Homo sapiens: one gene and its partners. The protein of the gene in region 1 interacts with the protein of each later gene in a pairwise test. Each region holds a gene or a part of one and is shown on either strand. Other genes may lie near its edges.

Region 1 (3,072 bases):
GGTGTTGGTATTTTAGGATGTAAGCTGGCCTACTACAATCACATTCTTTCGAAGTCATATGTTTTAAGTATTAAAGATACATGTGAATTCCCTATTCATCCACACATATTGAACAGAAATTATTTCTCTCAAAAAATATTTGCGGAAACTTAATATTGAAGGAAAATGGGACAGGGTCATCTTATGGTTGCAGGTAGTCCGGGTACACTGCCTCAGACTTCGGTTTTAAAAGAACTGATAGAAAGTAGATTAGTTATGGTTTGATATCCTGGTGTGTATCTCAGATTCCAACTCATTGACAATGTGACTTTGTGCAAGTTCCCTAAACATTCTGCAGCTATGCCCTCATTTGTGTAACAAAGATAATAATACCTATCTCACAAGGTGGCTTTGAGAGTTAAATAAGATGATGTAAGTTATTAATAGATACTCAATATTGTTAACCTCTCCCTTCCCTACCCTGTAAGGAGTATTGGGGTGGAAAAAAAGTCAACAAGCTGTTTGCTGCAATATATATATTTTAATTCAAAGTGAATCGACAGTAATACACCATAAATTCTTATTTTGACACTCACCAAAATAGTCACCTGGAAAACCCGCTTTTTGTGACAAAGTACAGAAGGCTTGGTCACATTTAAATCACTGAGAACTAGAGAGAAATACTATCGCAAACCGTAATAGACATTACATCCATAAAATTTTCCCAGTCCTTATTGTAATATTGCACAGTGCAATTGCTACATGGCAAACTAGTGTAGCATAGGAGTAAAAGCAAAAACAAATAAACCAAAGAAAGAAAGCCACAAGTCTAAAATTGTTAAACAATTAACAGTTCAAACTTAGTAATCAAATCTGTATCATTGGATTCATTAAAACAAATCTTCCTACACCTTGCAGTGTATGATTTAACTTTTACTTAACACAGTCCAAGTTTAAAATTAGCAGATTTTAAAAATGAAAATGTTTTGCTAATACAGTAACATATTTAATTAAACACGCTGGAGGAAAAAAAAAACAACTAAATATCAGGATATTTGATTTAAAAAACATTTTGCAAATTAAAATAGTATGCAAATATGCAACTTGGAAATCATGCAGTGTTTTATTTAAGAAAGCATTAAAACCGAAGAAAACTGGTCAAAATGGTTTTTAAAAGGTATAAATCCAGATTACTTTGTCAATATGCTAAATTAAGAATTTAGCAGAATTTTGAAATTTATTTTAAAATACATTAAAATGCCCATGATTGCAATTAAAGAGCAGTGTAGTTAACTGGGATATACCTTTATCAAACATTAATACTGTATTATGAAAATGTTGAAGTTTACCATTTATGTCAATTTAACAAGACTGCTTTAAGTCTTGGAAATTAAAGACAAAAAATACAACATTTCAGGGTAGTAAACATGGCCCTAAACAAAAAGAAAACTCTGTCAGTTTTGTACCTGTTGTGATACAATCAATCCTTTGCACTTGGTGTTTCTGAAACAATGTGTTGCCAGCATTGATTCTTTCCTAAGAAGTAAGCAGATCCTAATAATCTGCTGGAACATATAAATAAAATTAGAAGGCTGTGGAGGGCAGCAAATTTACTTAAATAGTGACCCCATAAATGTGTCATCTGTAAATAATCTTTTAAATTAATCTTAGGCTACTCCTTTTTAAACATTTAATTTTTTATATATATATATTTCTATTTGTATAAAATGCATAGAATTAATTACTAAAAACACTGAAACTTGTGGGGAAAATTAAGTCCTTCATTTTCAGTGTGACTAAAAATGTACTGCTGGTTTTTACTTTATGATCTAATACTGTAATTTTTAAAATCAATTTCAGGCACATTTATTTCATTGATGATTATTAAATAAAACACTGCTTGTGTTAATGGAGTGAAGAAAACTTATCCATTATTAGCTTATTGTGAACGCTGTACTAGAGCTGTACTAGTGGTATACAATTCATTTATCAAAGAAACGCTGTAAATCCAAAACATCTAGAGTTTTACACTCCAATGCTTTGTACTGTTTATTCCAGTAAATGCTGTAAGATTATATTCCAGATTTTTAAGGAAAAAAGTTAAGTCAAGCCTGCAAGATACAGCTTTCTCAAGTGTCTACAATGCCAGTATGAAAATAAAAAATTAAGTTACACTGATACATCCAAGTTTTTTTAATATGCAGTGATGAGCACAAACATTAATAGAGATAAAATACTGATGCAAATAACACACCCCAAAGTAACAAATGCAATTATTTTCCACCATTTACAATACAGTAGTTACAATGACACTCCAAACAGAAAAGCAAAGTAAAAAATCAAAACCCCAATTTCTATTCATGTAATTAGACTTATACAGAAATTAGAAGGCTAAATAACAACTAGTTAATCACCTAATTTCACAGCTATCTGAAGTGGCAATCGTTATATAGCAGCTTATCTATGATACATTCAAGATAAATGATACAATTTATTACTTGCCTGTAAGCTAAAACACAGCCTCAATTTAATACCTTTCCTTAAATTCCACCTTTACACTACAATATACTTGAGGTCTATGCAAAAAGTAGCTACCTTTATATAGGAAATGGATGATTAAGTCTTTGGTGCTGTAAAAGCAACTTCATTTAAACAGACATAACCACTACCATCACCACCACCCAAAAAAGAAAAAAATGTCGGGGAAGGGGGGAACTCAACACACTTCCTAGAAAGAAAAAAAAGCATGTAATTTCTGTCCCTGACGGAATGTATTAAATAAGCAAACATCACCAACAAGCAAAACAAGTACTGCAATGTAAAAATACTTAAAAAAAAAAAAAACCCTCTCACATGCATAAATCAAAAATTGCACACAAAGAACTCACATCTTTTCAAGCTTCAATAGTAAAAGTTCTGCTACTATTTATTAAATACTGCATGGTTTGCCCAAGCTAAGATAAAACCACATCATGAATCAATGAGCATTTTGCATTTTATTATCTACCCAAAGTCATGCCTACTGTACCTCTAAACATTTTATTAAGTCCAATTATACAGCAAACACTCTCAAAATAAACTTAGATTGTATTG
Region 2 (3,500 bases), on another chromosome or scaffold:
GAGTCCTGCCTTCAGGACACTTCAGTAGAGGGAGTTAAACAAGTAAACAATAAAGTGCAATAATGTGTTATAGGAAGCACTGAGCAATGTGCTTTGATGTGGATTCTTTTGTTTAATCTTCATAATAGCTTTAAGAGCTAGGTACTTTACCTTTATTCCATAGATGAGGGATCTGAGGCGTAGAGAAGTTAAAGTCACACAGCAAAGATGTTGTTAAATTGGGATTTGAACCCTGCCTATGGGACTCCAGGAACTATAATGATAACCACTGTTATTGCCTTCCTGGAATTTCGTACCATTAAAAAAATCAAAATTCGTCACAAAAGGTATATCAAGTATGTATAAAACATTTGTTTTAAGTTTCAAAAACCGATTACTTAAAATAAGCTGCGTTGTAACTGCCTTTGGGGAATTTTTCCGCATAGGCTGAACTGACTGAGCCATCTAAAAATAGGAGGCCAGTGAAGCCTCTACTGTTTCCCTGGTGAATTTCACTCAAGTTTTCATTGCTCTAAGGACTTTGAACTGCATTAATAATCAGGATGGTCACTCTTGAAAATGTCCCTTAACCTATCTGGTATATATGAATGCCTCTAGAACTCTGAGTGCTATATACTAGGGGAAGTTTCATGGGGCCTTGGGAAGCAGAGGAGCACACTGCTGCTAAGTGGTTATCAAGAGCAGTGTTGAGGGAGTTGTGTTGTCTTAATAAAGTTTGTGGTTATTATGTTTGTGGTTGGTTGCCTGTATTTTGAATTCTCATAGCATCTCTACAAGGTATGATTTATTATCATCATTGTATAAAGGGAGAAACCAAGTATCTGAGAGGTTAATTTACTTATTTGTAGTCATGTAGCTAATTAGCGTCAGAGCCAATATTGTCTAGCTCCAAAACCCATCTTCTTTCTGTTTTACTGTGATGGAGGCAGTGGGATATTGGGTTTGAGTCTCAGGTATAGTCCTAGCTGGAACAGTAGATTCAGAAGGCATTGGCATAGAAGGCAGCTGAAACCACTGTAGTGGTTGAGATTGCCCAGGGAGACTGGTAGGTTGAGTGCTGACAAAAGCTGAGGATAGATTTTTGGGTTCCGGAGGACACGGTCCATGTCTCATGCTTTTTTTACAGAGTAAACTTTCAGTGAACATTGGTTATTTGTGATCTTAAGGGTCCTTATTTCTAAACTTAAGTGTTCTTAAGTGTCATTATTTCTAAACTCTGGCTTTGATATTGCTCCATTGATTCAGTTCCATATATTGTATTGCAAGTGCCCATCTCCTGACCTGGAGGTGTTATATTTGTCTTTCCAGATTACCTAAAACCAGATCCATGGATGATCTTCTTTCTGCCTGTGACACAAGCAGCCCCCTGACTCGTACATCCAGTGACCCTAACCTGAATAACCACTGTCAGGAGGTCAGGGTAGGCCTGGAGCCCTGGCACAGCAATCCTGAGGGATCAGAGACAAGCTTTGTGGACTCTGGGGTAGGAGGGCCTCAGCAAACTGTAGGAGAAGTGGGTCTTCCTCCTCCTCTGCCCAGCAGCCAGAAAGACTACTTGAGCAATAAACCTTTCAAGAGTCACAAAAGCTGTTCTCCAAGTTACAAACTGCTTAATACCGCAGTGCCTCGGGAAATGAAGAGCAACACCTCTGATCCTGAGATCAAAGTCCTAGAAGAGACTAAGGGACCAGCTCCAGACCCTTCTGCCCAGGATGAGCTGGGTAGGACTTTAGATGGCATAGGGGAGCCACCTGAACATTGTCCTGAAACAGAAGCTGTCAGTGCACTCTCCAAGGTCATTTCTAACAAGTGTGATGGAGTTTGTAATTTTCCTGAGTCTTCCCAGAACTCTCCTACAGGTACGCCCCAACAGGCCCAGCCAGACTCCATGCTAGGTGTGCCCTCCAAGTGTGTTCTTGATCACAGCCTCAGCACCGTTTGCAACCCACCGAGTGCTGCCTGCCAAACTCCTCTAGACCCAAGCACTGACTTCCTCAACCAAGATCCCTCAGGGTCTGTGGCAAGTATCTCCCACCAGGAACAACTGAGTTCTGTGCCGGATCTGACCCATGGGGAGGAAGACATTGGTAAAAGAGGAAATAATAGGAATGGGCAGTTATTGGAAAATCCTCGCTTTGGGAAAATGCCATTGGAATTGGTCCGGAAGCCAATTTCTCAGAGCCAGATCAGTGAGTTCTCTTTTCTAGGGTCCAACTGGGACAGCTTCCAAGGGATGGTGACTTCATTCCCAAGTGGGGAGGCCACCCCTCGGCGGCTGCTTTCCTATGGCTGTTGTAGCAAGAGGCCAAACAGTAAGCAGATGCGGGCCACAGGGCCCTGCTTTGGGGGCCAGTGGGCTCAGAGAGAAGGTGTGAAGTCACCTGTCTGTTCTAGTCATTCCAATGGACATTGTACTGGCCCAGGAGGAAAGAACCAGATGTGGTTGTCCAGTCATCCAAAGCAAGTCTCTAGCACAAAGCCCGTTCCACTGAACTGCCCTTCTCCAGTGCCTCCTCTGTATTTGGATGATGATGGACTCCCCTTTCCCACGGATGTGATCCAGCATAGGTTACGGCAAATCGAAGCAGGGTACAAACAAGAGGTGGAGCAGCTACGTCGACAGGTGCGTGAGCTTCAGATGAGGCTGGACATCCGTCACTGCTGTGCCCCTCCAGCAGAGCCCCCCATGGACTATGAGGATGATTTTGTAAGTAGTCACCAACTGCCATACACCCATTATTTACTCTGTTCATCCAGCCTTCCCTCCATTCAGCATTTATTCGTTGGGTACTTGCTGTGTGCCACTGAGTTAGGTGCCTGGGCTATAGGATGAAAAACAAGTAAGCAATTAGAATGATGTTTTTAAGTGCTATGATTGAGGAGGCATCAGGTGTTAGAGGGCTGGAGTGGAGTGAAACGTCAAGGAAGACTTTCTTGAGAAGGTAATGCTTGAGCTGAGTGCTGAAGAATGTGTGATACTTAGCCAGGTAGACAGTGAAAACAAAACACCATTTGCAGAAGCGTAGTGGCAATAGATACTCCAATGATATGGCTTAAAAAGATGGGACATGCGAGTATATATGTGTACATGCATGCATACACGCTTACACTGGGGCTATGAGAGACAGTCAAATAGGGTGGTGGGAGGTGACATTGGAGAATTAGGTGGAGATTACAAGGGTCAGGTTGAGTGCCCTTCTTGTTTGGATTTTACCCTTAAGGCAATAAAATTTTAGGCCAGTGCACAATATGATCAGAGTTGTAGTTTAAGAAAATGACTCTTGCAACAATGTACAATTTTTTTTTTTTTTTTTTTTTGAGACGGAGTCTCGCTCTGTCACCCAGGCTGGAGTGCAGTCGTGCAATCTCAGCTCACTGCAACCTCCGCCCTCCCGGGTTCACGCCATTCTCCTGCCTCAGCCTCCTGAGTAGCTGGGACTACAGGCGCCCGCCACCATGCCCAGCTAATTTTTTTTTTTTGTATTTTTAGTAGAGATGGG
Region 3 (3,500 bases), on another chromosome or scaffold:
CTGGCTCTGAGATCTACATGACGGGATGATGTATATATGGGGTGCACTGGCAAAAGCCCCAGATTAAAAGCCACTAGAGGCCGGGCACGGTGGCTCACGCCTGTAATCCCAGCACTTTGGGAGGCTGAGGTGGGTGGATCACGAGGTCAAGAGATCGAGACCATCCTGGCTAATATGGTGAAACCCCATCTCTACTAAAAATACAAAAAATTAGCTGGGCATGGTGACACGTGCCTGTAGTCCCAGTTACTTGGAAGGCTGAGACAGGAGAATCACTTGAACCTGGGAGGCGGAGGTTGCAGTGAGCTGAGATTGTGCCACTGCACTCCAGCCTGGGTGACAGAGTAAGACTCTGTCTCAAAAAAGAAAAGAAAAAAAAAAAAAAGCTACTAGAGTAGACCTGGCTGTAGTTCCGATTTTCCTCTAATTTGCTGTGTGGCCTGGGGAAGATCCCTTCCCCTCTGAGTTTCCTTATTTTACAAATGGACTCAGTTCTCTCTGAGATTCCTTCATTTGGGACATTGTGATTCTGCCTTTGGCTGACACAAAATGATTAGGGTCATCTGCAAGGGTTCCACGGGGGAGTTCCCAGGGGAAGTCAGCACTGAGGGTGGTCAGGACCACCTGGAAAGCTTCCCCCCATAAGAGACCGCCCCAGAATTCTGGCTAGGAGCCACTAGAGGCCTATGGAGCAGATCTTGATGGTCAACATATCTTCTCTGGGTCCATGAAAATCTGTGTCATTTTCAGATTCTCAGACAAGAGAATCCCACACCTCATCCCACTGTCAGGGCCAGATCGCGGGCTGGAAGGGAGCTCTGGCTGGGCTCTTGGGAACTTTAAAAATAAGGGGACCGGAGGGCTATTCAGACAGACAGGAAGTAGGAATTAGAAGGGAAAAAATGCTGAAGCGGAGCCAGAAGATGCGGATTCCCTGCTGGCTTTGCTCCTTAGCAGCTGGGTAGGCTGGGCAACCTGCTTTAGCTCCCTGAAGCTCAGCAACCTCATCTGTAATATGGGCTTTTGTAAGGCTCAAAGGAGGGAAAGACATATAATGTTGCCAAGAAAACTGTAATGTGAGGTTTGCCTCTGAGATATGGGAAGAGGAGAAGGGGGGAAATAATACGACAGGGACAAGCTGACCAGGAGATTGGAAAAAGGAATGGCAGCACTGCTTTGCCCTGAAATGGGTGCGTCAGCCTCCAACAGATGGTCCCAGCGGAGGGATCAGGCTGAGAGGCAGTGACGTGTGCAAGGCTAACCTAATACCCGGAAAGACGCTTTATCAAGCTGGGGGGAACAAAGGCCGTGTTTCTTAGTGTGTCTTGGCTCTTGGGGTTTGTCCCCAGTGAACCAGTGAGGCTTTGTAAACAAGCTGCCCCATAGATCTCAAGATCTGGCCTTACAAGCCCTGGACCTAGCTTGCTGGGTCCTCCCTCCCAGGAGCTATTATAGACCTCTTACCAGGTCGGCTTGTCCAGATGTTTGGGTGGGAGATATCCTTTTCCAGATGTGTCTGGACAAAGCCAGAGACATAGCAGTAGGATTTGACAAATGCTATCTGGTCTCTTCTGCAACCTTCTCTGAGCAGTTGATGAAAATGATCCAAATTCAAATGCCAAAAGGGTTGGGACCCTTGGGCTGGGACCCTTGTGTTAAGTCATATACGCCCCCATTCCACAAAGTCCTAGGCCATAGATTTTATGGTGCTTACATCTCTGTTCCCCAGTGATGCCAAAGACATGGGTGAGAGAAGAAAGCTCTACCATGAGTTCTGCTGTATTCCAAGCCCTTGCTGAGTACTGAAGCTGCAATAGTGAATGTAACAGACATGGTTCATGGCCTCATGGAGCTTATGGATTTGTTGGAGAGATAGACATCAATCAAATAACCATATAAATATAAAACAATGAACTGGCATAAATGCTGTGAAAGCAGGGTGCTAGGAGAGTATTGAGCAGGGGACACTAGTGGGAGGAGGAATGTTAGAAAAGGCTCCCCAGGGAGGTGCCATCTGAGTTGAGATCTGATGGGTTGTAGAAGTTATGGGGCAAAGGGACTGGGGCTTGGGGTGATGGGTGAACCAAAGATGGTGGACCTAGGCTAGGGGACAGTGCATGCAACTGAATGAAGGAGTTGGTGCATTCATAGGCTGGGGCATACAGAAGAAGACGGTTGAGTCTAGAGGGGTTGACAGGGGCCAGTTGGACCACCTGAAAGATGGTGGCCTTGATCTTAAAAAACATTGGGGCCAGCCATGGTGGCTCATGCCTGTAATCCCAGCACTTTGGGAGGCCAAGGCGGGCAGATCACCTGAGGTCAGGAGTTCAAGACCATCCTGGCCAACATGGTGAAACCCCGTCTCTACTAAAAATACAAAAATTAGCTGGACGTGGTGGTGGGTGCCTGTAATCCCAGCTATTTCGGAGGCTGAGGCAGGAGAATTACTTGAACCGGGTGGCGGAGGTTGTAGTGAGCCAAGATCATGCCAGTGCACTCCAGCCTGGGCAACAGAGTGAGACTACATCTAAAAAAAACCCAAAACAAACAAACAAAAGTTGGGGAGCCACTGAGGAGTTTTAAGTGAGTGATATGATCAGATTTCAATGATCACTCTGCCTGCAGTGTGGAGATAGGCTTGTAGAGAGTAAAAGAGGGTGTAAAAGGACCCAACAAGAAGCTCTTGCAGTCACCCAGATGAAAGATGATAAAGGCGTAGCATTGAGAGAAGTGGCGGAGAGGAAGAGGACAGACGTGAGATATATTTTAGACATAGCGTGGGCAGGTTTTGATGAGGTGGGGGTGAGGAGGAGGAGGAATCAAAGACAGCATCAGCTTTCCACCTTGCAGAACTGGGGTACCTTCACTGAGATGGGGAAACCCAGGGGCAGCAGGAGCAGGTGTGGGTGAAGGCCAGCTTGCAGATTCCTGTTCAGATGTGTGGCGTTGTGTCTTCTGAAACGGCAGGGGAGTCACCTTGTTTGTTGTTTGTTGGTGCAGTGTCTGCCCACTGGAGCTGAGTTGAGGAAGGGAAGGGCTGGGGTCTGGCTGAGTGCACCAGCACCCACCCAGGCCTGAATAGGGCCTTAGAAGTGTTGGCCAAATGAATGATGCCTCAGTGGACCCAGCGAATCCTCACCATTCTAAGAGAGCTTCTGAAGCAGAAAACCTGAAGAAGGGTTAGCAGTTGGGCTGGAGATTATTTTGGTCAGAGTCTGGGCAGGAAAAGCCCCCCCAGGGCTGAGCCTCTTCTCTGTAATGGGAGCTCCTGGGGTGTGAGCAAACATCCATCATTCAACCGGGGCGCAGAGGGAAGGCCCGGAGTGGGAGGAGAGGCCGAGGTTGGAGGGACGGGGCCTTCTGGGAGGCCAGGGCAGTGTCCCAGAGCATCCGAGAGGGGCCTGTGACCCAGATGCCGCCTCCCCTTCGCCCCCGGCCGCACCGCGTGGGAGGAGGCGGCAGCTGCAGGCGGGGCGGAGGGCGGGCGGCCGGCGCGCCCG
Region 4 (4,018 bases), on another chromosome or scaffold:
TTGTTTTTCATACATCTAGTAGTTTTAATTATATACATATTAATTACATTAATTCTTAACAACCTTAGGTTATTTTATTCCTGCTGTCCTCTGCTCTTTTTATGGCCACGGTCTGTTCCACCTCAGAACTGAAGAGAGATGTTGGTAGGGAGAGGCTCTTCCCTCACCTCTGGCAGAAAAGGAATGTTCAGGCCCTTCAAACCCCTGTTGTCAAAGCTGCACTTTAATGTGACAGCTATTGGCCATGTATGGCTACTGGGTGTCCGGAATGTGGCTGGTCAGAACTGCGATGTGCTAGAAAGGTAAAATACAGAGTTAAAGATTTAGTTCCAAAAATATACACACTTTATTAATAATTACATATTGCTCAGATATTAATATAATATTTTTGATATAGTGGGTTAATTAAATGGTTAGAATGAATTCCACCTGTTTCTTCTTCCTTCCTTTTTTTTTTTTTTTTTTTTTGAGACGGAGTCTCACTCCGTCGTCCAGGCTGGAGTGCAGTGGCACTATCTCGGTTCACTGCAAGCTCTGCCTCCTGGGTTCACACCATTCTCCTGCCTCAGCCTCCCGAGTAGCTGGGACTACAGGCCCCCGCCACCGCGCCGGGCTAATTTTTTGTATTTTTAGTAGAGACGGGGTTTCACCGTGTTAGCCAGGATGGTCTCGATCTCCTGACCTCGTGATCCGCCCACCACGGCCTCCCAAAGTGCTGGGATTACAGGCGTGAGCCACCGCGCCTGGCCTTCTTCTTCCTTCTTGAAGTTTGACTGCTAGAAAATTTAGAATACACATGTGGCTCACGTTTTATTTCAGAGGATTGCCTCCTTTTTAAACTCTCAATCGGCCTGCTCAAAGGACCAGAATTCAGAAAGGGCATAAAATCTGGAATTTTAAAATAATTGTTATATTATTTTCATGTGTGAATAGCCACATAATATATTATTTATAAATGCATATGACTTTATATACAGGTTAAATGCAAATGCCTTCTGGGGTGGACCTGGCTCAACTCAGGGAGGAGCCCTGCCTGAAAAGGCTGCAGCTTAGGTTTCACTTTATCTTCTTCCAGCCCAGCATCTGAGCACAGCTTCTGTCACTCAGGGCCTGAGGGAGCAGGGCAGCAAACGTTATCCAATCAGGACTGCTGGGCTGGGAACCGTCCAATCAGGCACGCAGCTGGAGCGGACAGGACGGCTTCCGGGATTTGGCGGGGCCTTTGTCTCTGGCTGCAGCCGGAGCTCCTGCTCTCCTCCTCACTGCTCAGTGTCCTCTGCTCCTAGAGGCCCAGCCTCTGTGTCCCTGTGACCTGCAGATATTGGGAGATCCACAGCTAAGACGCCGGGACTCCCTGGAAACCTAGAAATGGTGAGAGTGCTGGGTCCGACATCCCGAGAGAGGGGGAGGGGCTGGTTGGAACCGATCGGAAGTGGCTGTGGCTGGACTCGGGCCTCCAAAGTCCGCGGCCCCAAGTTCTCCTTGGCGCAGCTCGGCCCTCAGTCCCCCGCGGCCCCGAGTTCTCCTTGGCGCAGCTCGGTCCTCAGTCCCCTTCAGCCGTAAGATGGCGGCTGGGCTGACAGCCGGGACCCTGGGCGTCCTGTCTCCTCCCTGCTCAGTGACTGTGCCCTGGCCTGGAGCCCTCTCCGGGCGGCTTTGCACCCGCAGCGCGGCATCTCTCCCCGATTGTGCAGGGATGCCGGGAGGGTCATCAGGGGAGAATCCTGACTCGGGATGCGGGGTTCATGAATGGGAAAAGCTTTAGTCTGTGGGGTTCCTAGTCCATCTTTTTTCTCTTAAAAATCTATGGAAGTCACCACAAAAATGTTAAAGAATTTAATCAAAGAGTAATTGAAGAATTATAGAGCACCCAGCTGTGGTTTGTAGTTTATTTTCCATGGGAGGGGCTTGAAGAAAAGACTTTTAGAAGGTGCATGATAAAGGAAAGCAAACTCAATAATTGGTTAGGTAGAGTTACGTAGTTTCTTAGTTTTAGATGAAGGTGGAAATTTTCTGGTCACGTAATCAGAGCTTAATTGGCAGTTCATGGTTGATTAAGTCTAAATTTTGTTTTCCCCAATGTAGTAATTTACAAAAAAAAAGCATTTGAGTTAGATTTTTTAAAAAGTAAAAACCCTGGGACTAGAGCCACCTCAGTCTAATTGCCTGCCATTTAGTTATTTTCACACTCCACAGGGGACAGATTTTCCCCTGCAACTTTCACGTGTCTCAAGCAGGGTCTCAAGACTACTCCCTATTCCCCATTCTTTTAGCCTAACTGACTTTCAGTAAAATGCTAAATTTCCAGTTTCCTTTGACATTCCCAAATCCCAGCTTCCCCTCCCTAATTCACATTATCAACTATTTGTCCTTTAGTGTACATTTTAGATACTGTATTTTAATTAATCATTGTTGACAAATTATTGGGTGGCACTTTAAACAAATTGTTTGCTGTTTGAAAATATTTCCAATGAGAAGAAAACAAAAAATAATCCCCTGACACTGTATTGTAAAAAAAAGTCTGTGCCTATTTTCCTTTTATCTTCCCTAGGCGCAGAGATCTTATCAGAATGTTTTTGGGTCAAGGTTTCCCTTTGGAAACTTTACAGGGTGATGTGTCCTCAGCCACCTTTCGGTTTTCTCCTGGTCCTGGGTTTCAGTACTGTCTGGGGATAAATCAAGATATCAACTGTGGCTGTGTATGCTAGAATCTCTAGTAAATTTCAGCTCCTGGCCTGGAATGGAACTCTGGGTATCTGGGAATGGGAGACAGAGGACAATCTGAGGTTGGAGTGTAGCCTCTCAAGGGAGCAGGTGGATGCCCTGGGGCTGAGAGGAATCTCCTGGTATACCCTTCCTTTGGAAAGCTAACCCTTTGAGGCATTAAGATTGTGTTCACTCAACCCGACTTCCATTTCTCAGAGGTACATTGCTGGTCAGCCAATCAGATGCTGGTATTGAGAGGAAAACTCAGAAATAATTTCTGCCCCCTGGATTCTCTAAGATTTGTGAAAGAAAAAATAGTATTCCAGAAGACAAAAAAAAAAAAAAATCAAACTTGACCCCAGTGAGATGGTACAAGAACTTGCAAAATGAAATGCACTTGGAGTAGTCACTGAGGCATAGGGCAGTGTCTACAGAGAGGGTGGTCATTGGGCACTTAAATGAGCAGGATGGGGTAGGAGAATCTAGTGTTTGGGTGGCCTGACTTGACACATGAGTCAGACACATCTGTTTTCTTTTTTTTTATTATTATTATACTTTAAGTTTTAGGGTACATGTGCATAACGTGCAGGTTTGTTACATATGTACACATGTGCCCTGTTGGTGTGCTGCACCCAGTAACTCGTCATTTAGCATTAGGTATATCTCCTAATGCTATCCCTCCCCCCTCCCCCCACCCCACAGCAGGCCCCAGTGTGTGATGTTCCCCTTCCTGTGTCCATGTGTTCTCATTGTTCAATTCCCACCTATAAGTGAGAACATGCGGTGTTTGGTTTTTTGTCCTTGCTGAGAACGATGGTTTCCAGCTTTATCCATGTCCCTGCAAAGGCCATGAACTCATCAGACACATCTGTTTTCTAATCAGCCCCGCCACTCCCTGGGTTTGTCACCTTGAAAAGATTTGTTCACTTATTTTGATTTCAGTTTTATAACTGTAACTTGCATTTTATTAGTATGATTTAAAAGTTAAGAAAATATTTACAGAGCATAAAAGAGGTGAGTTTCAGAGAAAAATAATATCTAATCATATATTCCATTTATTAAGAATTCTCATTTACCTTTTTCTTTCCCAGACTTAGTTTAGGAATTTACTCAGGTGTGTTTTTTATGGCTGGGTGATGTCCAACGGTATTCCAAGGCTTAGTTTTTAGAGTGCTAGCAGGGAAACAAAAAGGAAAAAAACCTCTCTTCCATTTTGACTGTAGAAAATGAATACATTTTTACAAGAAAATGTGGTAGATAATTGATGAGTTACATAGATTTATGAAAGCATCAGTTCCTCTTTTTGCAGGGT

Evidence for each region. The genes of interacting proteins can lie anywhere in the genome.
Region 2: the proteins of HIPK3 (region 1) and MTMR4 interact in a two-hybrid assay, tested with the Homo sapiens proteins (one large-scale study listed by BioGRID and IntAct).
Region 3: the proteins of HIPK3 (region 1) and HEYL interact in a two-hybrid assay, tested with the Homo sapiens proteins (one large-scale study listed by BioGRID and IntAct).
Region 4: the proteins of HIPK3 (region 1) and ZNF107 interact in a two-hybrid assay, tested with the Homo sapiens proteins (one large-scale study listed by BioGRID and IntAct).

Annotation. Positions count from the first base shown.
Region 1 is NC_000011.10:33,354,452-33,357,523, reverse strand, and holds the end of HIPK3 (homeodomain-interacting protein kinase 3), read right to left. Parts: 3' UTR 501-3,072; downstream 1-500. UniProt on the Homo sapiens protein: Serine/threonine-protein kinase involved in transcription regulation, apoptosis and steroidogenic gene expression. Phosphorylates JUN and RUNX2. Seems to negatively regulate apoptosis by promoting FADD phosphorylation.
Region 2 is NC_000017.11:58,494,139-58,497,638, reverse strand, and holds part of MTMR4 (phosphatidylinositol-3,5-bisphosphate 3-phosphatase MTMR4), read left to right. Parts: intron 1-1,308; coding exon 1,309-2,707; intron 2,708-3,500. UniProt on the Homo sapiens protein: Lipid phosphatase that specifically dephosphorylates the D-3 position of phosphatidylinositol 3-phosphate and phosphatidylinositol 3,5-bisphosphate, generating phosphatidylinositol and phosphatidylinositol 5-phosphate.
Region 3 is NC_000001.11:39,633,144-39,636,643, reverse strand, and holds part of HEYL (hairy/enhancer-of-split related with YRPW motif-like protein), read left to right. Parts: intron 1-3,500. UniProt on the Homo sapiens protein: Downstream effector of Notch signaling which may be required for cardiovascular development. Transcriptional repressor which binds preferentially to the canonical E box sequence 5'-CACGTG-3'.
Region 4 is NC_000007.14:64,664,915-64,668,932, forward strand, and holds the start of ZNF107 (zinc finger protein 107), read left to right. Parts: upstream 1-1,218; 5' UTR 1,219-1,368; coding exon 1,369-1,371; intron 1,372-4,018. UniProt on the Homo sapiens protein: May be involved in transcriptional regulation.